3 linked regions of the Homo sapiens genome follow. The protein of the gene in region 1 interacts with the protein of each later gene in a biochemical or structural test. Each region holds a gene or a part of one and is shown in the gene's direction. Other genes may lie near its edges.

Region 1 (8,176 bases):
ATGTTTAAATGCTATGATAGGCCATTTTTGCAAATGCTGAAATTTTCCAGCAGGTATGGACGTTATAAAAATGTCAAATTTTGCTACTATTCTATTACATGTCACCAGAACACAAAAATCTGAAAATAAAAGTTATATGTATAGGCAAGGAAGAGAAACCATTATTTGTTTTGCATATGACTGTAAAATTAATTGGCATAGTGATATAATTTAGAGTATTGTTTACTTGGAAGGAAGAGTAGAGAGGATTTAATATAATGTAATCTGGTGAAGTGAAAATAATGCTTATTATAGATAAACTATAAAGCCTTTTAAATATAGGCTTTTAGTAATGCATATGCAGATATATCTTTCCAGGCCCATTTGCTATAAAGCAAATTTAAGTATCAGCTTTATGCCCTTTGGTAACCCCATATTATACATACAGTTTTAGAGAAAATGAAACTTTAATATGATTCCACATAAAATGGTGAGCCATGCCAGTAATTCTTATGCCCTTCATATGCAAATAGTTTTATCTTATCCATCAATTATCATGTAAACATAGTATCACATGGCAAATTTCCCTGTAATACAGTACAGTACCTGTATATAATTATAGGTGCATTTTGCCAATGCAACTGTTACACAGAATTGTAATTAATTCCTCTGAAGACTACTGTGAGAGTTTTGGATACTGATGCTGTTTTTGGACATTTATTACTGCTCTTTAGTTGGCTTTTTGCTATGCCTCAGAGACAGATGTAAAATTAGTGTCTATTTTGAGCCAGCAAACAGTACATCTTTCCTCTTGTTTATTGAATTGCAGAAAGGAATTCTTTGGGCTCCCACTTCTTTGTGGTTTTGAAGTAACTGTCTGTTTTTGTGCCAGCCATGTAGCTCCAATACATGTCTAAAATTTTGCTGAGACTCATGCAAAGGGTGGCTTATTTGACCTGTAAGGACTGAATAGAACTTTGCTACGTTATATGGGAACTTCCAGGCTTTTAAATGCTGAATAAAAAGATATATATCATAAGTTCAAAAACAGACACTGGCCTAATATATTCTGCCCAATGAACCTCATTTAAAACCAGTATACGTTGGTTATTATACAAAATTGAATCTCTTCTTTGCAGAGACAAAGCTACATTATTAAGATCTCTTCTGCCAGTGGTGATGATGGTGGGCAAACATCAAAACAGGTCCAAATGGGAAAATGAGCTTATTTTTATTTCATAATGTAAGTGCGGCTAAACCCATCAAGTATTGGCCATTCTAGAGTAAGAATATTTTATGGTGAAAATTTCCACAGTACTTGTACTAGGCAAATCCACTGACTAGACGTGAGGGAACATTTTAAAGGAAAATCCTGGGATTTAGAAGTCGGGGCATGGGGTAGGGATCAGGAAGTGCAAAGTCCATCTCAGTGCATTTAATTTTGATTGTCAGATGGTCAACCAGAAAGAGCAGAATGAGATTGTCTCATTTGAATTCAGATATAAAAACTATGTTATGAATTGTTGTACCTGGATTTAAAAAGGGGTTGGGAGAGTGGCACACCAGCATAATGGCATATGGAAATGCATATCCTAGTTAACACAGCGCTAGAAAAGATGGCATACTGCCTCTGTAAGTGAATTTGACAGCAGTTATTTATTTAGTTTAAAAGTATTTACTACTATTTGTGAGCACAAACCCTAAAGGTTGTGAAGTATTGTTGTCCTGTGAAGGTGATGGATGCTGTACTCCTGACCCTATATGGTGAGACATGACTTCATTGCTTGTTTAGATTGTTCTGATATTTGGGACTCCTCAAGGGCTGTTCATAAATCATTTATCTCTCTTTTTTTTCCACAAGAAAATATTTCAATTGTATTGCTGCAGGAACACTCACGTGTCACACGGGATATTGTGGTCCATGCAGAAAAAGACCTTAAAAGGCATGGGTTTTTTTTTTTTTTTTTCCAGGATAAAGGCCTTTTAATGCCTGTCCAGCCTTAGATAATTTTATTCACTCCTTCTGGACCTTTCTTTATTCCTCCTGTGCCCAGAGATCAGTTTTTAGGAGGTGGGTTGAAAGCTTCCCAGGCCTTAGGAGCTTTTGTTGTAGCCCCCCCATTCCCACTCCCCCCTACCCCCAGCATTCTGAAAATTTGTAAAGAATCTTCTGCTTGTTGCTAAGAAATAGTTAAATCTCAGTCACCAGGAAAAAAAAAAAGAAGCACATTATTGATTGTACTAAGGTATATCTGGACCACACAGCTAGAGCAGAGATGTTAGAATATCTCTCTTTTTGTAGATCTGAGGGCATTACCCAGCCTGAACTTGCCTAAGCCCTTGTGGTCACACCTCTTGAAAAGGTTTTGTTTCCCCCGTCAATTGGTATTCAAACCAGGTCAGCAGATTCTGTTTGCCCGGCTCCGCTGCCGTTTTCATTTTAATTTGCACCTGTTGTGCAGTTGTTCGGAAGGCAAGTGCAGACCCGCGGATTATACAAAGATCATATTATGAGCAGATATGCACGGTGTAATCTTTTTGTCCCCAGCTTCACATGACAAAAAAAAAAAATCTCTCTCTTTTTGTTCCTTTTTTACTCCCTGGGAACCTGTCAAAGCAAACAGATATGACTGACTAAAATTTGTAACTAGACATGTTTCCAGAATTCTCCAAAAGCATTATGAACCTGACACACAATCCTTTTCATTTTTTTCCTCCTTTTCTGCCACTTTTGTATAATCCGATAGCTGGCAAGAGCCACTTGAGATAGCTCAGTTGATAACTTAGCGGAGGATTGCTTTATTAGGCGCAGAGAAATCAAAATGAACCTGAAAATTGTTTGCGCTTTTTTTTTCCACAGCCTTTTTTCCCCCTTTCTCTCTCCCTCTTGTTCCCATGATGTCATGGTTCTAACTTGTTTTTTTGTGTGTGTTTCTGGAGAGTTGGGTTAACAGTTCTTGGCAATCCTGTGTGTGCGTAACGGCTGGTGTGTTTCTCTAGCTGAGCTAATGCCCCGTGTTTATTACTCTAATCTTTCTTGTCTGGTGGTAAAGTGGACAATTTATGTACTAGCATGTAGGCCGAGAGCCTGTGAGGGCTGACTAATTCAGAAACAGCCACCTTCAATTGAGTTCACAGACCTTATTTACAGGCTGTCTATTTTAAGAAAAGCTACTGAGCATTGCTGGGACTGAGGGCTGCAAAAGCAGCCCGCCGGTTCTTGTGAGTTATTTTAACATTTGTGTTGGTCTTGCCTGTGTCACTTTGAAATCTTCTGTAATTATGACACTATGAAGACATCTCAATAGTAGTATTAATGGCCCAGAAGATATGGCTTTTCCTCATTTTCTGCTTAAAAGATTAGGATATAAATGGCCTTAGCACATGACGGTTGACATAGAAGAAAGAGTGAAAATTCAGATGGAGCAGGTTTGTGTATGTGTTTGTGTATTTGGGTAAATAGATGGACGTGTGTGTGTGTGTCTACTGTTTCTAGGGAAAAAACCACAGTTAATATAGTGAAGTCATCTCGTATTTATAGTACAACATTATATAGTAAATACTTCATGTCTCTAAGCTAATAAAATTGTCTATTGTAGATCTATTTTATAAGTTTTTGTGGAGTATCGAAAGTACATATTGCAATACGTCTCTTTACATATGCAGTATAGGCATAGTTTGTGTGTCTATGTTTCTGTTGCTTTTTAGAATTTCCCATCATTTTTAGGAAAAAATTGTTTAAAATCAGAAAGAGCACCCAGCTATAATTGAAAAAGAATAAAAATGCTAAAACCTGAAGGATATTAATTATATTTTCCTGACATGGTTGAGTAATTCAGTTATGAAAATATTAATTATTTTCCATTTAACTAAACAATTAGGGGTGGCTGATGTTTCTCAACAGAGTGTTTAGAGAGTGTGTTTTGTGCTTCTTCTGCAGTGGTGAACTATGACAATGTAGTGGACACAGGTTCTGAAACAGATGAGGAAGACAAGCTTCATATTGCTGAGGATGACGGTATTGCCAACCCTCTGGACCAGGAGACGAGTCCAGCTAGTGTGCCCAACCATGAGTCCTCCCCACACGTGAGCCAAGCTCTGTTGCCAAGAGAGGAAGAGGAAGATGAAATAAGGGAGGGTGGAGTGGAACACCCCTGGCACAACAACGAGATTCTACAAGCCTCTGTAGATGGTCCAGGTAAGTGTCTAAAATCACTTGGCCTCTTCCTGTACCATCTTCACATCTTCAACTAATCTGTTCCACCTAGCAGATCGCCCACAACCAAATAATTAAAATATTTCTTTCCATTGAGCCCTTGCAGAATAGAGATACCAAAGCTGGTGACAGATTATGAAGTGATAGTAATGTTATCACATTGCGGCAGTTACATCTTAGGAAGGGATTATATTTCAGTTTTGATGCAAGTCAAACATGAACCACACTTTCAACACATAACATGAGGTATTTGCACCACATTTACAATGTGCAAATTATGTAACATGATCAAGATCTATACTTTCATGATAGGAAATGGAAGCAAATGTAAAAACTCACAACATATATATGTATATAAAAATATTTTGTGTGGAAATTATGTAGCATTTCAAACCAAATAACTGTCAGTTTAATGTAGCTTCAGTGTCTGTCTGACACCTCCTATTGGAATTCAATCGTTTAATGATTCCCTTTTGTTAAGTGTGAATGTGATTTCACACTTTTACCTGGTCAGGTAGCTTTCTTATTATTTATCAGCTAAGTACTTGATAATGATTCCTGCTGTTTGGTGGGACTCTCAAGGGAAGTAAAAATGGTCCCAGGCCAACTATAATAAAACTAAGGTAAATTATATTCAAACTAAAACTTCCGACAACACTGTGCAAACGGGAAATGTCTTGGTCTAAAATTCACTTATGACGGAGAATCGCTAAGGTATGAAATGTTTAACAAAATACAAGAAATCTTATTCCTGTGAACTTTCTCTGCTCATCTTTACATGGTAAAGTGGCCTGGAAAATTTGTTTAAATGACCTCTCTAATTCAGACCTCATGTCACCTTCATCTCTATTCCCAGGACCCACTGAGAGTTATCATTGTTTACCCCACCTTGTTTTTTCTTTGACAACATAAGCAACAAAAGCATTTTTATAAATAGGTGAAGTGGCTGGGAAGGAGTCTACCTATATGCTGTTGTGATGTCGCAGACTATAAACCATCAAACATAGGCAGAATAATTGTTTGGTATACTGGAAGGAGGATAATAAAAGCACTTCCACTACGAAAGAAAATTAAATGTGAGATGAAAGAAAAAGAAAAAAGACTGATGGCAATTTGAGTACAGTGTATTTGTTTTTCGTTTTCCTAACATACTGTGCCAAGTTTTCTACTCTTTCCGTTTCCAATTTTGCTTTCGGTGAAGGTTTCTCGAATCTCAGCAATCCCACACATAAACATTTATCGTTATATCCATTAAGCCTTAAGGTTTTAGATTTTCAACTATGAGGGAGAACTCAGCCAAAGATGCTTGAAAGATAAATACGTTTAATTAGGGGCAGAGGATGATCATTAAAGGAAGTCTGACTGCTGCAGAAGTCATTAACAATCTTAAATGAAATTTTTATTTTTATGATAGCCATTTACATGTATAATAAGAGCCAATGATTCTTGGGAGCAGTGTGACAGAAACAGAGTGTGGCGAGAACTCATGTAAGACATACTATTTAAATGAGCTGGTGTTAGCTATTCATATTTGTTAATGAACTAGATATGCAGGGCTATAAGAATGAATGTTCTGATGCTTTAAATTTTAATATCTAGAAATCAAGGGTAAGGACCAATTACTAGAATTTCCACCCTTAGAAGAATAATTAATAACAATGTAACAAATGTACAGCCCCAAACCTCTTTTAAAAAAGTTTAATTTAAAAAATTTAATATCAATAGTTGAAAAACAGCCAAACAGCAATGTCAAGCTGTAGTAGTTTGTGATTGTGGCAGCTTTTTGTGTTGGTCATGGATCATAATTCTAAACGTTTTAATATACAGTAATCCATATGAATGCATTGCAGACCCTGTTATCACCTGTAGTTAATGGTGCCTGTGATACAAGTGAACAGGCTGTTCTTTGCTCTTACCTTTATGGTAAATAAACCAGCATTCTGGAGTCACAATAATTAAATAAAATGTAAATCCCTAATCTCATTTGGCTATTTGGACCAAGAAACTTACCCGGCTATTACCTGTCTAGTTCTAATGATTACTAATGATTTATTGTTCTTTTTTTTTATTGTTCTAAAAGTGCTCTGATGTGGTGCCTTGATGTCTAATGAAAAGAAATTGGTCTTAAAAAGCTACTCATTGTTTATCCTGACTCTGAGATAACACATTTTTCTTCTGATAAAATATTTTTCTTATTTATTGTTCAAAACACACAATATAGACAATAACTCTAATTCTGGTGCAGTTTTATTTAGTAGTGTTTTATCCCCGGTGCCTGGCTGTCTACAGTCATACCTCAGCACATAGCTTTACTCTGAGATAAGCCCTCTCTCCTTTGCTCTTTCTCCCATGCTTTCTGGAGTTTGTCTGCAGGATGCAGGTTTTGAACTGAAGAGCGCAGTGGAGTTCTTACTGTGCCTTTCCGGTTCCAGCACAATCAAAGTTTTGTGTTTGGAATTGTCCTTGACATTCTTTCGTCCCACAATGGGGTGGACACAGTGTGCTGGAAACCATGACATCATTATCATTGACACAGACTTAAATAAATCACCTGCATCTTGGCCTCTTTCTGCTTATTCAAGGATTCTTCATCTTAAGGAAGAAAGTGCTCTTTATTTTTACAAATCTTCATCCCAGGGGTGACTGGAAGACGCAAACTTTTACAAGTGTTTTAAAAATAAATATACTATGTGGTTTTAGACACAGTATGCTGAGTCAGAGGTGTCTTAGAGAATGTTTAAGGTTAGACATAAGGCAGAAAGACAGCCAGATTGCCTTTAATTCGGAGGCAATATTCCTAAACTGTGTATCATTATGTCCTTCTGAATATGGATTCACTTGAAACTTAATTAAATAGGCATATACATAACATTTCAAATACATACCTGAAAAGGCTTAGTAGTGTTTCATTTTCACACATTGAGCTTGATATTCAAAAAAGAAAAAGATTGATGCTCAGTGAATCAAAGCAAAGTACTTTCTAGGTAAAAGTGACACCATCTCATCCAATGTCTCTGAAAGATCTCAGTTGCACAGTCTTTGGATAAAAAGGGTTATAACTAAATAATACTACAAAATGCAATTTACACAATGTGCTGACTACACATTTGTATACCCAGCATTTATTAATTTGGGAAGCAACCAACTACTGTAACTTCTCTTTACTTTTTCATAAGAAAATGACAATGAGGAAGGAAGTGCAGCAGAAATCTTGAACATTACCACTATTATGCAAAAAAAAAAAAAATGCTGTTAACTGTTTTCCCCTCAGTGACTTGATGTGCTCTCAGATGGAAAACTTATGATTCTTGTGACTCTTGGCTACCCGAAATCACATGAGATGAGCAAGGAAGAAAGACACAAAAGCTATATTTATATCTAGCCCTGAACTTCTCAGAAATACCTTAATATGATTCCTTGCAGAGACTGATAAAAATATCAGATGAGGGAGACTTTCAAATGATCAATGATTACAATTGACAATACAATATTGCTATATATTAAACTTCTAAATGTTTAATGTAAAATGTCTCTCTGAAAATATTTTTTAAATAAAGGAAAATTCCTTGCTCAGGAATGAATTTAAGTGGTTGTACAGCTTAAACAAATATCATTCAAATTATCTGATTATTATGAGGAGTGAGATTAAATTAGCATCCAGGTATATCTGTGTATTTTACCTTAAGAGGATCATGATTTTTCAGTTCTGATTCCATAAAGAGATTTGCTGCACTGCTTGTAAAATATATTTTATTTTATTTTTGCTGTAACATTTTCTAGAACCTGTTCTTTCATGAAAGTAGATTAGAATATGATAAGCAAAGAATGACCAGGACAGATTTGGAAATTCGTAGAGTCCTAGTTACAAAGTTTCCCTTGTTTTAAGTAAAATGATTATCACAGAGAGATATTCATCCTGGAGCATATTTGGTCTCATTAGTATTGTCATAGTAAAAATAAAAATTTTTAAACTTCACGTTT
Region 2 (8,176 bases), on another chromosome or scaffold:
TTAGCTGGTCGTTGGTATGTGAATAAGAGAATGTGGGAGTTAACACTGGAGAGATATGTCGGGGTCAGAGGATGTCAGGTTTGTTTATTAGGAGTTTAAGAGTGCAATTCATAATTTTTGAATGGTGTATGAACAGAGCTTTGTTTTAGGAACACTAAACTGAAAGAATATGCATGTGAAGAAGGAGGCTGAAGTTAGGGGAATGTTTAGGAGACTGTTAAGGAATCCAAACCAGACTTGACTGCATTAGTGTGGTTTAATCTGGGCTGGAAAGTTGGACAAGAAGAGTACTTTGAGTGCATGGTTTTCTTTTTTTTTTTTTTTTTATTTTGAGATGGAGTTTTTGCTCTTGTTGCCCAGGCTAGAGTGCAGGCCCAGACGTGATCTTGGCTCACTGCAACCTCCGCCTCCTGAGTTCAAGCAGTTCTCCTGCCTCAGCCTCCTAATTAGCTGGGATTACAGATGTGCGCCACCACACCCGGCTAATTTTTGTATTTTTAGTAGAGATGGGGTTTCACCATGTTGGTCAGGCTGGTCTCGAACTCCTGACCTCAGGTGATCCCACCCCTGGCCTCAGCCTCCCAAAGTGCTGGGATTACAGGTGTGAGCCACCGCGCCTAGCGAGTGCATGGTTTTCTAAATACTTGTTGACTTAAATGTTCTCAGTTGCCTGTGCATATGTAAGTTTTAACAAAATATTGATTCTAGAGTCTAACATTTTCTTTTCAAGATTGTAAGAATGGCAGAATTTCATGAGCCACTTCCTTGTTTATGATAGATTATGCATTCTCCCCTCTTGCTGAGTTTTTATGGCTTTGAGGTTTATGATTATGATTTTTTTAGGGCTGTGGCAGAAATTCTCAGGAGCAGCATGCCTTGAAGCACTATCTGACGCCAAGATCTGAACCTCACTGTCTGGTTCTTAGTTTGGACAACTGGAGTGTATGGTGAGTTTCAGTTCCTCTGCCTCTTGGGTGGAAATTATTTGAAATATTAGAGAATGGAAATGTTTAAATATGTTTAAGAAGAAAGCAATTTAAAATTTTTGTAGTATGTTTTAAAATACCATCACTTTCACAAAGCTAAAGAATGCAGTATTATGAGAAGCTTTTACTTGGACGTTTGCACAAGCACAAACATTGTAACATAGAAGACTTAAGAATCTTTACCCCTTTGTTTTTCTTGCTTGTGATATTATAAGGCATATAGTGGAGATAGGGACGCTAAGAACAAATTTCAGATAAAATTGTAATAAAATTTTGGCTATGAATTTGCATGAAAATAAATGTCAGTCTGGTATGTTATAGATGCTGCATTGTAACATCATTAAAACAGATTTTTACGTCTTAAAAATCATTTTCACAGTAGTCTTCACTGAATGACATCTTTTTTTTTTTTTTGAGACGGAATCTTTCTGTCGCCCAGGCTGGAGTGCAGTGGTGTGATCTCGGCTCACCACAACCTCCGCCTCCCAGGTTCAAGCAATTCTCCTGCCTCAGCCTCCCGAGTAGCTGAGATTACAGGGATGCACCACCACGCCCGGCTAATTTTTGTATTTTTAGTAGAGACGGGGTTTCACCATGTTGGTCAGGCTGGTCTCAAACTCCTGACCTCGTGATCCCCTTGTGATCCGCATGCCTCAGCCTCCCAAAGTGCTGGGATTACAGGCATGAGCCACCGTGCCTGGCTTGAATGGCATCTTTCAATTGTAAAAGTTGTTACTTTTGTCTGGCTAACACGTTGAAACCCCATCTCTACTAAAAATACAAAAAAAAAGTAGCTGGGCATGGTGGTGGGTGCCTGTAGTCCCAGCTACTCGGGAGGCTGAGGTAGGAGAATGGCATGAACCAGGGAGCTGGAGGTTGCAGTGAGCCGAGATCCTGCCACTGCACGCAGCCTGGGCAACAGAGCGAGACTCCGTCTCAAAAAAAACCAAAAAACAAAACAAACAAAAAAAAGTTGTTATTTTTGTTAGTGTTATTCTGTATTTTAAAATATATGTAAACAATCTTTTGACTTCAATGTTATAACCAGTAAAGTAAAACGTTTGGAGTATTTCATCATACTACTTATATGCAGCCATAATTCTGGCTAATTTTATTAATAATAAACCAGAGTTAATATGCATAGTCTTCTTCAGGAAAACAGAATTTTTACGTTCGGTTTCTTTAATAGAATAAGTTGGCAGTTACACACTTTGATTCCAGGAATTATTATTTGTCTCCCCCTTTTTAGTTGTCATTTTGTCATTTTTCATCTCTGATTTTTGGGTCACAGGTGTTACGTATGTGATAATGAGGTCCAGTATTGTAGTTCAAACCAGTTGGGTCAAGTGGTTGATTATGTCAGAAAACAAGCCAGCATTACAACTCCAAAGCCAGGTAAAATAATTTGTTTCTTTAATATACACCAAATGTCGATTTGTGTATCTGCTGATACTTAGATTTGTTATACTACCTAGCATTACATACAGCTGAGTAACATTAGTTATGGTTGATTGCAAACTATGAAACTATTTTTGGTTTAACTATAAGGTATTAGAAGGGATATGAGAAATGATCTAGTCAGATGTGATGAAGGCCATAGACTAAGGTAATGGCCATTAATGCTAAGACTAAGGTAATTCCCATAACCCTAGCCAGGCTTACTATAGACCTGCCTTACACTGTTCTTACTGTCGTACATTTTGTAATAGCAAGATTTCAGTCTGTCTGCTGGGATAACATAAAGCATTTGTGATTCCTTCTAATGGTCAGATATTTCTTAGGTTCTTTCCATGCATAATTAAATTAATTGGCTGACATACAGCATTTGCTTTAAGCATGTTTTTTAAGTTTTTATTGTCACAAGTATCTTTGTCAGAGCCAGAATTATTTGTTTTTTACTTTAGGATTGATTTTTGACCCACAGAATTCATTAAAAAATTTATTTCATGTCCATGTTCTTGATTGTTTTATATTCTTAATTTCACAAGGTAAGATGTGTTCATTTGTAAAGAATTTTCGTGCAGTAAAAAAGGGAGATTTATACCAAAGCACATACTGTTTGGTTTCATTTATCAAACTAATGCTTACTTTAGGTCTGAGTATTTTTTGTTTACTGGGTTTTGTGTTTTTTTTCTGGATGGCAATTTACCTGTATCTATTTAAAATCAAATGGGTGGGTGGGTTGGAAAGAATGACTTCAGGTAAACTCACAAACTCTAGTACTGTTTCCCAAGTATACTTCTGCATTCGATATGACTGTATTACACATTTTGCTAAATCTTTTCTTTTTTTAAAGCAGAGAAAGATAATGGAAATATTGAACTTGAAAATAAAAAATTAGAAAAAGAGAGTAAGAATGAACAAGAGAGAGAAAAGAAGGAAAACATGGCTAAAGAGAATCCTCCCATGAATTCTCCTTGCCAAATAACCGTGAAAGGACTCAGTAATTTGGGAAACACATGTTTCTTCAATGCAGTTATGCAGGTACATTGTCATTTTTTTCCCTTTAAAAAAGCTGTCCTTTTCCTCATAGAATCTGCTACTTACATTATTGAGTTTTTTCCACCTGAGTAATTTATTTCTATGTATCCAAAGAAAACTTTTTTTTTTTTTTTTTTTTTTTTTGAGACAGGGTCTCACTCTGTCACTCGGCTGGAGTGCAGTGGCACGATCGTGGCTCACTGCAGCCTCTACCTCTTGGGCTCAAGCAGTCCTCCTACCTTAGCCTCCAGAGTAGCTGGGACTACAGGCATGCGCCACCACTCCCAGCTAGTTTTTGTATCTTTTGTAGAGACAGGGTTTCGCCATGTTGCCTAGGCTAGTCTTGAACTCCTGGGCTTAAGCCGTCCACCCCCTTTGGCCACCCAAAGTGTTTGGATTACAGGCGTGAGCCACCATGCCTGGCCAAAGAAAACTTAAGGAAAGTTTTATTGCATGACAGTAAGAGAGTTTGGTGAGCACTCGGGTGCAGTGGGTTTGAAAGAAATATTGCTGCTTCTTTCATGGAGCTTGCACTTGGGTGGAGGAAACACAGGATAACCTCATATAGAAGCAAATACGTACCTACAGGTAGTGGTAAGTGGTTGTGAGAGAGTCATGGTGGAGGATTGGGGATAGCTACTTCTGATTGGGTGGTGGGAGAATGCCCCACTGAGGTGATGAATAAGCTCAGAACTGAAGTAGTTATGACCCAAATAGAGTAGGGAGAGAAGCATCTGTAACTTTTCATTTTCCAAGTATAGAGTTTTCAGTGTTGGTCATGATTTTCTGTTTTGATAGAATAGACACTTAAGAAGTGTCAGAGTTGATTTGCCTTTAAATAATTTTTCTCTTTTTTTTTCACCCTACATTCTAGAACTTGTCACAAACACCAGTGCTTAGAGAACTACTAAAAGAAGTGAAAATGTCTGGAACAATTGTAAAAATTGAACCACCTGATTTGGCATTAACAGTATGTTCTTTAAACTTTTCTAGTCTGTAACTTTCCTCTCTGAATGTGTGTTTTCTAAATTATTTTAAATAACTGACACTCATTTCCACTGTTTTTGTTTGTTTTGTTTTACTTTAGGCTACTAACTTAAACAGTTTCAGGCTAATAGAAGTTATAAGGAGGCATTACATCTGTTTGCTGTGTGTGTGCTCTGTTTTTCTATGCTCGAGTGTTAAGCTTCCTTCTTGGGAATGTGTATATGTTTGAGAAGCCTTAGGCTTACATTATTATTTTTAACATCTTTAAGGTGACTTAAGAGCTGTGTAACCAAATAAATATTACCTTATCCATTTTTATTATTTACATTTTGCTTTGGCTCTTTCAATTCTTAGGTAGTAAGTGTTCCAGATAATCTAAAACTAAAATAGTAGAGCTGAATTCTGCATAAGACAGTCTGTGACCAAACAGTTTCTATCTCTTTTGATGTACATTTTAAACTTTTAAATGGGGCAGTTCTGTCAGGAACATTGGTAGTATATGTTAACTAATTAGATTTTAGTAAAGTCAGTGATTCCAGAATTTGACTGAAGAAAGTAATTTCTTTTCCCATATTCAGGAACCATTAGAAATAAACCTTGAGCCTCCAGGCCCTCTTACTTTAGCCATGAGCCAGTTTCTTAATGAGATGCAAGAGACCAAAAAGGGGGTTGTGACACCGAAAGAACTCTTTTCTCAGGTCTGTAAAAAGTGAGTATCCACTTCGATTGTGCTTTCAGTGCCTCAGTGAGATGCTGAGAAATAATATTAATATTAAATAGTAAAATATAAAAATATTAATAGCATTACATTTAGTCAACCCTCTATATACAAAAGGCATAGTTTTTTTTCATTTGGATTTTAAAATATATTTTATGTGATAGTTAAATCTCCCAAGGGTGTTAATGGACTAAACGGAAATTTGTAGAAACCAGAACTCTCTGAGATTTGGGATATGATCCTAAGATTTTCTAAAAATAGCTTCAGAGCTTAGTAGACTGAAGATTGCTTTTCTGTCTTTTTGTTTTTCTCTAGAGCAGTGCGGTTTAAAGGCTATCAGCAGCAAGACAGCCAGGAGCTGCTTCGCTACTTATTGGATGGGATGAGAGCAGAAGAACACCAAGTTAGCATGTTATGACCATTGTATTTTATGATCTTATCTTCATAAGCTTTCTGTCTCATTTGATATCTTACGAGTTAAAACAATGAAAGCTAGTTATTAAGGCCATCATACTTTAAAATTTTTTCTTACACCAGCTTTTTCAACTAGTATGTTTTCACCATTAGAATGAATCCAGAGAATTAGCAGTAATTCTCTTTCTCATGATGGCTTAAGTTTAGTTGATGTTTACAGCATTAATGTTCTTTAAAGATTCTGTTGTACTAACCTATACGAAGAGAGCTGCCAAATATTGGAAATTGTTTCTCCCAAACCCAGGTGCAGCACACCCTTACTTTTAATTCTGAGTCTGATTTAATACTGTTTTTTGAACCTAGGAAGTATTTTCATTTTGTAAGAGTCAGGGAACATTGGTTGCATTTTAAAATTTTTGTTACTTGCCAGGATATAAAAAAATGTATTTGGGGTATGAATTAATGAGTACTAATAATAGTGATAATAACTAATATTTATTTCGCACTTATTTTTATGCCAATCACTGTTTTCAGTGTTTTGTATTAATTCCCTTACTTCGTTCTCACAAAGTTTCTGTGAGGTGGATACTGTGATTTTTTCCTATTCCATAGATTGAGAATCTAGGCTGTAGAGAAGTTCAGTACCTAGTTTAAGGTCCCCCAGAAATAATGGAGCTGGGCTTTAAGCACTGGAGTCAGACCCTGTGGCTGTCATGTAATCATTGTGCTTGTAGGACAAGCTATTTCAGTTTCTTCTCAAAGGTGGTGGGCATGTTCTGAAAACCTTTGGCTTGAAGAGGTTTAAGATCTTGAAATGATAAGATAATACCTTTATTCAATGGTTAGTGATTGCTTTGTGACATAATTCCTTTTTAGCTCCTTGAATTAAGTTTGAAAATGTGATTTTGGAATTATTTAGTAAATATGGGGAGCTGTATCCTGATCACTTTCTTGACTTGATTACATATTTCTAAGGAAAATAAAATTTAAAATTTAATAGTATATATATATCCATTTTATTACTTTTAGAGAGTGAGTAAAGGAATACTTAAAGCATTTGGTAATTCTACTGAAAAGTTGGATGAAGAACTAAAAAATAAAGTTAAAGGTAATGTCTGACTTTTTGAACTAAAACACTATAGTTGAATTCCTCTGTACCTTAGGACAAGATTGCTGGCACATATATTTCCAAGTCCACAATTATTAATGTATAATTTCTCTTTATCAACGTTGATTAGTAAAAATTATTCAGTGCTCCAGAAGTGAACAGTTTTACCCCATGGTGTATTCTTTTTATGTATTAAAGATAGAACTATGATGAATTACAGTTTTACTTTTCAAAAGCTTAAAATTATAATTAGCAGTAATACATGAATTATATTTGTTACTGTGAGTTGTCAGTAGTTGGTTTATTAATCATGGAGCCAACTTAGTTCTTATTATGTGGCGTGTAAAGATTTAGGGCAGATCTGCCCAGTAGAACTTCCTATGTTGATGGAACTCCTCTATACCTTTGCTGTTCCATATAGAAGCAACTAGGCACGTGTGGCGCCTGAAATGTGACTGGTGAAACTGAGGAACTACATTTTTATTTTTATTTAATTGTAATTAAATTTAAATAGCCGTAAGTGACTAAGGGCACTGTATTATAAAGCACAGATTTGAATCAACTCATAGCAACTCTTTGCCTCCTTGGTGCCCTTTAGAGCCTGGCCAGTAATGGAGAGAATTACCCCTGCTGGCATTTTCTGTCAGAAAAGTGTGGTTCTGCATAAATTATCATTTGAATAATGCTTATAGGTTTCACGTATTTGGAAAATTGGCTGATCAAGTAGTAAAATTATGGCTTTTAGTTATATTAAACTTATCAAGATTATTTCTGGGAGCATAGGAAAATAAAAGGAAGATTTTGTTTGAAATATTTTCCTGAGGTTTTTCTTTTGTTTTTAAAATATCAAAGGAGTTCAGTCTTAGAGTTCACAAAACAAGTTACATGCATTTTCTCTCCCAGTTTGCTACTCTGGTATCTTTTATCAGTCTTGAATGTTAGAATGTTAGAGCTAGAACTAAGGAACTAGGCTGTCATTCAGCCTACTCTGAGCTGTTCATTTTATACTAATGGAGAGAGAGAGAAAGACATAGAAGTCTCACTGACTTGCACAGTTTACTTCCCACTGACTAGATCTTGGATAAGGACTTTTTTGTCTTATTCATAAAAGGCGATTGTGTTCAATTATGTTATGCTCAGAGGTGGAATATATAATACTGACTTCTATTGCTTAAAAAAGGTGATTATGAATGGAGGAAGAAGTCTGTGGGACAGGAAATTTAAAATAAAATTTTAGAGTTAGATAGGTAAGTAGTTTTAGCTTTTCTTGTTTAATTAATTATATAACGGTAATTGGTAATTGATAGACTTTTTTTTCTCCATAGATTATGAGAAGAAAAAATCAATGCCAAGTTTTGTTGACCGCATCTTTGGTGGTGAACTAACTAGTATGATCATGTGTGATCAATGCAGAACTGTAAGTAGATGTCATGTATACTGGGTTTATTTGCTAATATTCAACAGTTTATCAATTGTTTATTT
Region 3 (8,176 bases), on another chromosome or scaffold:
AGAGCCTGCTTCCTGGGCCTACTGTGGTAGGCTATGGGGCCATGAGGAGCCACACAGCCCCATCCCAGAAGTGAAAGCAGTGAGCCAGTGCGAGGGACTGTGGTTCATGGACTTCCCTTCTTGGTGAAAGTGTGGGTGACACACTAGGAGGGTGGAACTGGAGGCGGAGAGAGCCGAGAGGAGGCTGTTGCAGCGATACCAGTGGGAAGGAATCATACCTGCACTCAGGCATCACCATGGGGATAGAGAGAAGAGATTGCTTGGAGATCTAGTAAGGAGACAACACATAGAATGTGATATGTGAATGGATGTGTGAGGGAAAAGGAAAAACCTAGGGCGGCATACAGCTTTCTAGCCTAAACACCATAACAACAGTTGACCTGCCGAGGTGGGGACACAGAAGAAGGGGCAGACACAGGAAACAAGAGCCTTCTAGGCAAAGGGAGCAGGCTGTGCAAAGGCAGGGAGGCAGTGCTCTGAACACATGTTCTGAGGACAACGAGAGGGGCCATTGCATTGTTTTGCTCTCTATCTCAAGCCTTCCAGTGGCCATCTCAGTCCTGGGTCTTGCCTGCGCTCAGCCATTTCTGATATAGGTCAGACAACCTGGAGGACCTATGAGCTCCCAGTTTGCCAGGACAACCCTAGCTTGAGCCTTCCCTGCTGATTCCTGCATCTCTCCTCACGCCGCAATCACATTGCTCACATCCAGGGGCACCATGCGTGCTGAGGTCTCATGGAAATACCCACCCACCCCCAAGACTGATGGATGCCTGTGCCCTCTTCAGCTCTCCCAGCCTAGACAATATGCCACGGTAGATCTGAGGCCAGATGAAAACATGTTCTATTGTGCTTTCTCTGATGGTTCTGTCTGATGTCCTTCACAACTGTCAGAAGAGGAATAATTAGGAATCTGTGTCATTGCAATTCTGAGAGGTGGTGGAAGTGACAAACTGGTTGTGGGGGCCAAATAACACCTGGAGGTTTTGTTCATTTAGCTAATGTTAGTTTTTAAACTTTTAAACTCGAGTGGTGAACAGTTGAAGGTGAGCATCTTCAGCTTGTCCAATGTCCCACTATTCCCTAGTGTCCTAGCCCCACCTGTTTTACTAATCTGTATACCTGCCTGGCCCCTGAAGAGAGGAGGGGAATGGACTTGGAGCCATAGAGATCTGGGTTTGAATCCTGGCTCTGGAATTACTTTCCCTGTCTGCCATTCAAGTATTGACCAGGCCTAGCTGCTGCAGTCAGATGAGATTGAGCGTGTTCAGGGTAGAATGGTTGTAGACTACTTTCCCTCTGTCAATCTCAGTTTCTTCAGCTACTTGAAGGAGGATAATCCCTTACAAAGTTAGGCTGAGGAATAAATGGAGTAAGTGCTGATTATCATTAAGGATTAAAAACATGCAACTTAATGTTTTGGGGTGTATGCTGCCACCCCAAAGGACAGATTTAGGATGAAATTTGAATAAACATATGCAAGTTGCAGGGATACAGATTTAGCTCAATATAAAATACAAATGGACAGATTTAACTCAATTAGTGGTGGTTAACACGCTGCAGATGGGATAGATGGCTTTAGGAAGTAGTGTGTTTCCCATCAGGGTGGTATTCAAACAAAGAATGCTATGGAGGGGTTCAAGCATCAGATCAGGGATAAAAAGACAACTCAAACATTCTACAGTCCCATGGCATATGGTTCTCTGTTCCTCTGTGTGTCTTGCAGATAAGGCCAACTTTGCAAAGCATCCACCAGTGGCTGTCCTGCCTCTTGGAACAGGAAATGACCTTGCCCGTTGTCTCCGCTGGGGAGGAGGTGAGTTTGCATGCTAATGGTGGTACCCTGGGAACAGGTGTTCCTGTTTACAGAGATGCTCTACAGAGCTAGGCTGAACTTACCCTTTTATGGATCACATTCCGCAGCATAATACTCAACTCTGCAGTCATGTCAAGTCCATGACCCTTTCTCTGCCCTCCATCCCATGCTGAATCTAGAATAGAAGCCCCTCTTCTGGGCTCTGGGAGCTTTTTCTCCCTCAGCCCCGAGTTTACTATCATCCTGAAACCATCAACTTAGAGCCTGCTTTCCCCAGTAGAAAGCAATCAACTGTAGGGTAAAGACAAAGTCTCATATGTCCCATCCCCAGAGTCCCATCCAAGAAGGTGCTCACTTAGATGTTTTCTGTGTGAAATTCCCTCTCCCACAAATGGCTGATCTTCTGAATTAGGACTAAAACTGAGGACCAAAATGCTACATCTCCAGTTACTTACCGTCACTAGAAGCATTCAGATCATCCTAAGCCCCATAGCCATGGGCCCTCATTTTGAAATTTCCCTAAGAGGAAACACAGAGTGGTAACCAGTGTATAAGACAAGGGGCAGAGAACTTTGCAAACTGCAGTAGCCCCCATGGCGTTGGACATGCGCCAGAAAATGGAGAAGTTCAGCTCAACACATGGAGCAGACAGATCAGGCTGCCGGCCAGAAAAGGGGTGGGGACTCCAGATGGCTGCTAATTCAGAGAATGAGTCAAGACCAGGCAGTGCAATGGTCAGTGTTCAATGATCAGCTATGCTTGGTGGGCAGTGTCAAAGCAAGCAGGACCTAGGCCTAGCGGCCATCTTAAAATTCTGCCTGCCACACTGTCCATCTCCCACATGACACAGCCCAGAAGGATCTGCTGTTCTCCCATGCAGAGACTCCCAGCCATCCAGCCCACCGCTTCTCCAGGGTTTGCTTCGCTTCAGCTACACAGGCCTGTGACCTTTAGCTAGCACCCACTCCCTCCCCTGCCCCCAGCCTCTGATTACTTTCAGTTATCCTGCCCTTCTCTGTGGCTCGGGGAACGTAAGTGTCTCTAGCCCACAGACACAGTGGGGAGTCCCATAGTCACAGATGCCCTGGGCTTACCTGCCCTGACAACTACCTGTGCATTAGCAAGAATACAGCCTTTCTGCTGTGGTGGCAAATGCAGTGCTGTCCTCCACAGGTTATGAAGGGGGCAGCTTGACAAAAATCCTGAAAGACATTGAGCAGAGCCCCTTGGTGATGCTGGACCGCTGGCATCTGGAAGTCATCCCCAGAGAGGAAGTGGAAAACGGGGACCAGGTCCCATACAGCATCATGAACAACTATTTCTCCATTGGTGTGGTGAGTTGGTCAAAGATCACCTTTCTGTATGGAAGGGAAACGCCCAGGAAGGGTTCCAGCCTTCTGTTGTCCCCTCTGGGTCCCTAGTGTCTACCTGTCTTACCTGCCCCCCCAGCCCTGAGTTGGGTCCAAGCATTCTGAAACTTGGCCTGAGTGTGGACACCCTGATTGCACCCCCGCTTTATTCCCCATCTCTTGCTTAGGGAGTAAATTCTCTCCTCTGTCATTTTAACTAACACAGGAAAAGACAGAAAAATTTTCAAAAGACATATTTTCTCCTTCTGCAATTTGTAGCAGTCGTAGAAAAGCAACACCAAGAAATAACCGGGGGACAAGGTTGGTAGGAAACTCTCACATGAGCTTCAGGAACTGGGAATTCTGATCTTCAAAGGAAGACCATGTGGTCCCAAGTTGCCCTGGCTGGCTTAGCCCTCAGATTTCCTTCTCTCCTATTCTCTCTTCTCTCAACCCCATTCCACTCACTCCATGGGCATCATAAACCTCTAGGGGAGTCTCCTCCCAGCTGACCCCTTAGGCTGAATGCTGTGAGCCTCCTTGATGCTCCCACAGCCCTTATGCTCACCCCATTCATGCACACTCTGCATTAGGTTGAAGGAATTGGTTTAATGTGCTTATCTGGTGCCCCCCACTGCCATGCACACACACACACTCCCTCAGTGCAAGGACAGCACTCTGTTCCTTTTTCACCCACTAGCCCCAGCACATCTAGTGTAGCTCAGCTTCTGGTCCAAAGAGGATTGGAGTGGGCACTGCTTCCCAGGCTGCTGTGAACAGGATCGGAACAGGAGGGGACAGATCAATCATTTCTATAAATGAAGCTGGGGGTTGGGAGGGGGTGGGAGTGCAACAAAGACACTAGTATTTACTTTTTTTAAGAATGACAGAATTGGTCAGGCACGGTAGCTCACGCCTGCAATCCCAGCACTTTGGGAGGCTGAGGCGGGCAGATTGCCTGAGGCCAGGAGTTCGAGACCAGCCTGGCCAACATGGTGAAACCCCATCTCTACTAAAAATATAAAAATTAGCCGAGCGTGGTGGTGGGTGCCTGTAATCCCAGCTACTCGGGAGGCTGAGGCAGGAGAATTGCTTGAACCTGGGAGGAAGAGGTTGCAATGAGCCGAGATCACGCCATTGCACTCCAACCTGGACAACAGAGCGAGACTCTGTCTCAAAAAAAAAAGAATGACAGAATTATTGAACTATTTGTTCTTTTTTTCAACAAATATTTATCAAATTTTTTCCCTAAACTTTTATTTTAAGTTCAGGGGTACATGTGCAGGATGTGCAGGTCTGTTATGTGGGTAAGTGTGTGCCATGGTGAGTTGCTGCACACATCATCCCTTCACCTAGGTACTAAGCCCGGCATCCATTAGCTGTTTCTTCCTGATGCTCTCCCTCCCCCAACATCCCCACAGGCCCCAGTGTGTGTTGGTTTCCCCCTCGTGTCCATGTGTTCTCATCGTTCAGCTCCCACTTGTAAGTGAGAACAGCCACTAGCATTTATTGAGTACCTGTGTGCTCTCCACAGTGCTAGACTGTACATATTCCAGCCCTCACAGTAGTCCTGCAGGTATCATTATCCTGCTCATCTCACTCTACAGATGAGGCTTCGAGACCCTTGACTCGCATGGTGGTGCCTTGTTCTGGAGCCAGGTTCTCTCCTCTCTGTTCCCTTGTCTTTGGAGTTGTGCTGCCCAGTTTCACATGCATATGAAACCCTCCAGACGAATCCTCTGCCCCAGACTCTGTGATACCTGCACTCCTCAACCATCCTCAGCTGTGTTTCTTTTGAAATTTTGGTATTTTAATTTTTTTTAAAGGAAAGAGAAGGAGAAATGATAGGTGGCTTGAGGGGATAGCAAGTTTAAGTAAAGGGTGTTGTTTTGTTTTGTTTTGTTTTGTTTTTGAGACGAGTCTCACTCTGTCACTTAGGCTGGAGTGCAATGGCATTATCTCAGCTCACTGAAACCTCCGCTTCCCAGGTTCAAGCGATTCTCCTGCCTCAGAAGTTGGGGTTACAAGCGTGCAATACCACATCCAGCTAATTTTTGTATTTTTAGTAGAGATGGAGTTTCACCACATTGGCCAGGCTGGTCTCAAACTCCTGACCTCAAACGATCCACCTGCCTCAGCCTCCCAAAGTGCTGGGATTACCGGCGTGAGCCACCATGCCCAGCCTAGGTTTTATTTTTTTAATAAGAAGGCTAAATAGAGAACCATGGGAGAAGAAAGGACTAAAAATAATAATACCTTATATTTACAGAAGGATTTAAAATTTACCAAATTCACAGATATATTCTGAAGGGCATTATTATCTCTATTTTATGAATAAGAAAACAGAGACTCAGATTAAGGGATTTGCCTTTATTCTCTGACTCCTAATCCGGTGCTCTTTTTCTATTACTAAAGCAGAAGAGGGAAGCATTGCTGGGCCCATGATCGGGTTCTGAGAGGGTGGAGGTGGTAGACTGGGAGCAAGTTTAGGGGTTCCTATGTCCCAATCTGATTCATCCCACTGGATCCCCGGCCTCAGCTGAGGGGAATGTTTCCCTAGACCTCTTCCAGGTGCCCCCTCCAGTGACCCACGCAGATGCCCTCCCTCCTCTTCGTGCTCAAAGGCCCCTCTCCTTTTTGGACCGGCTGTTCAGGCTCCGCTTCCCCCAGCAGGAACATGTGCAGCCTTCAGCTCCTGCAAATTAGACATGACTGACAGGTCCGGGGTTCTGGAGCGTGGGCTTCCCATCATTACAGTTAAAAAAAACTCATATGTCTTTTTCCTATAGTAACCAGAACATAACTTGCTAACATTTATTGAGTACCTACTGCACACCAGACATAGTTTCCCTGCCAGTGGAGGCAGGCATTATCCATTTGTGTTTTGTAAGAAGGAACCATAGCTTAGAGAGGTACAGAAACAAGTTCAGGCTGGTGAGTGGCAGAGCTTGGAATCATAATATTTGAACTCTAGAGCCAACTGAGCTGTGGACCACTGAGCTTTGTGCCTCCTTGAAGCCCCCTCCGTCTTCATGTTGCCAAATGTAACATGGTTTGAAAGAGGGGAATCTCAAAATTTAGTTGTGGTGGCTCACCACCACCTCTTATCAGAAATGTAAATTCCACCCCCACAACAGATGCTGATTCATATTCCAACTCAGTAGGTCTGGGTAAGGTCTGGGAACTGGCATTTTTAACAAGACCCTGAGATCATTCTGATGCAGATGGTCCTGACCAAGTTCTCAGGGAGTGAAGACAACCTACTAGAGCAGAGAAGAATGGTCAAAGGAAGTGGCTCTTCGCTGGCATGGAAGCCGGAACTGAAATAAATGGAGAGGGAAGCAAGGAAGGAGGGGAGAACTAGCCCTCTAAGCAACGGGCTGGAAGCCAGAGCTGAGGAGCAAGACTGGCAGAGCTGCCTGGGAACTTCTAGACAGCAGGTTACAGCGCAGCTGCCTGCAGAAGCTTCAGCCCCACCTCTTCCCTTTCTAACACACCCAGCTCTGGCTGACAAAAACATGGTTCCCCACACCTCCCTGTCTCAACACAGTGCCCTGTATAAGATGGCCCTCCTTAGTATCTGCTGACCAAATGGATGAACACACAAAGAGGAATGGACAGCCTTCCCTCAACTAAATAGCCAGGCCCTAAACCCAAGAGCCAAGACTATTCAGTAATCATAGTTTTAATTTATTCTAGCAAAAAAAGTAGGAAAAAAGGAAGGAAGGGAGGGAGGAAGGAAGGAAGGAAGGGAGGAAGGAAGGAAAGAAGGAAGGAAGGAAGTCCTGCTGGCTGGCTAATTAATTGTCCCCAAGGAAACACATATAAACAGATTCTCCATCACTCTCAGTGGTCAAGATAATTTACCTACCTTGGGCTGACTTATAATAATCCAATCTATTCATCTTTCCAATTATGAACAACTTCACAATATCTTTCTTGTAATTTTTTTCATACACCTTTAGCTTATCCATGTTTAATATTATGTTGCAGAAGAATGAGAAACCAGGGCTGTTCTCATCTCATTGGTGTGCCCTTGGCTTTCTCTCAATAAAATGTTTGCAGGGTTTGTATGCTCGCTCTTTAAAAGTTGAAAAGAGAAATTCTTGAGAAAACAAGTAACCAACACGCAACCCTAACAGAGTCTGGGGCTGACATTTGCAGAAGGTCTTGCTCCCTATTTGACTTCCCAAACTTTGTAAGAGAAGTAGGTATGTAAACCGAGGAAGTTTTACTTCCTTATGATGATCAAATAGAGGCGGACTCCACTGGCAAAGAGAGCCCTGCCAAGGTCTTTGCCTCTTTTGAAGGACCTAGAATATCTTATGATAGCAAACATCTGTTGCTTTGTATTTATAAAGATGATGACAATGACCTCTGAGACAGTGCCCTTGGGTGCTGTGGGTAGAATTTTCTCTGATGAGTTTACTGAGACCCCTTGATGCCAACAGAACCCATTTAATAGCTGAGGGAATAAATAAGGCAGGGTCTCCTGGCCTCTCCAGGGAGTGACTGTGCCCTCATTGCTACGACAGCCCCATCCACACATCAGTTTCTCACCAGTGAGAAGCTAAGATCGTTGGCCTTATCAGTCCTTCTAACTGATAATATCTACTGGCAGGAGATTTTAAACACAGTCATTCAGGATGCCACTTCCTCTGACTTCTCTGGCCTGCTCCTCCCTGTTCTTTATTTTTAGATTAGCAGAAAATGTCAGGATGGCCAGGTATCAGTGACAGGAAGTTTGGGACTACAAAATAATTCCCAAGGTATGTGTAACTCTGAACTCCTCACAAGCTCTGCTTTCATGAGCCTTAACAGGACGGGTGAACAGCTAATCCCTTGATTCAGTGAAATCTATTTCTGATGCTAGGGGAGCCCAAGGGCCAAGGAGAGGCCACAGTGGTTGCACTGACCCACGCACCGTTTTCCACCTTGCAGATCGTTCCTAGCTATCACCAGACAAGCTTCCCACCATGATAAGCGTCCTACACATAGGGAATTTCTCAAC

Evidence for each region. Proteins that work in one complex are often made in the same cells at the same time.
Region 2: the proteins of ZEB2 (region 1) and USP16 form a complex in vitro, tested with the Homo sapiens proteins (one study listed by BioGRID).
Region 3: the proteins of ZEB2 (region 1) and DGKG form a complex in vitro, tested with the Homo sapiens proteins (one study listed by BioGRID).

The regions. Positions count from the first base shown.
Region 1 is NC_000002.12:144,425,770-144,433,945, reverse strand, and holds part of ZEB2 (zinc finger E-box-binding homeobox 2), read left to right. Parts: intron 1-3,919; coding exon 3,920-4,177; intron 4,178-8,176. UniProt on the Homo sapiens protein: Transcriptional inhibitor that binds to DNA sequence 5'-CACCT-3' in different promoters. Represses transcription of E-cadherin. Represses expression of MEOX2.
Region 2 is NC_000021.9:29,033,994-29,042,169, forward strand, and holds part of USP16 (ubiquitin carboxyl-terminal hydrolase 16), read left to right. Parts: intron 1-843; coding exon 844-947; intron 948-2,277; coding exon 2,278-2,381; intron 2,382-3,282; coding exon 3,283-3,470; intron 3,471-4,341; coding exon 4,342-4,437; intron 4,438-5,032; coding exon 5,033-5,163; intron 5,164-5,487; coding exon 5,488-5,575; intron 5,576-6,615; coding exon 6,616-6,694; intron 6,695-8,019; coding exon 8,020-8,111; intron 8,112-8,176. UniProt on the Homo sapiens protein: Specifically deubiquitinates 'Lys-120' of histone H2A (H2AK119Ub), a specific tag for epigenetic transcriptional repression, thereby acting as a coactivator.
Region 3 is NC_000003.12:186,246,733-186,254,908, reverse strand, and holds part of DGKG (diacylglycerol kinase gamma), read left to right. Parts: intron 1-1,726; coding exon 1,727-1,816; intron 1,817-2,989; coding exon 2,990-3,150; intron 3,151-8,176. UniProt on the Homo sapiens protein: Diacylglycerol kinase that converts diacylglycerol/DAG into phosphatidic acid/phosphatidate/PA and regulates the respective levels of these two bioactive lipids.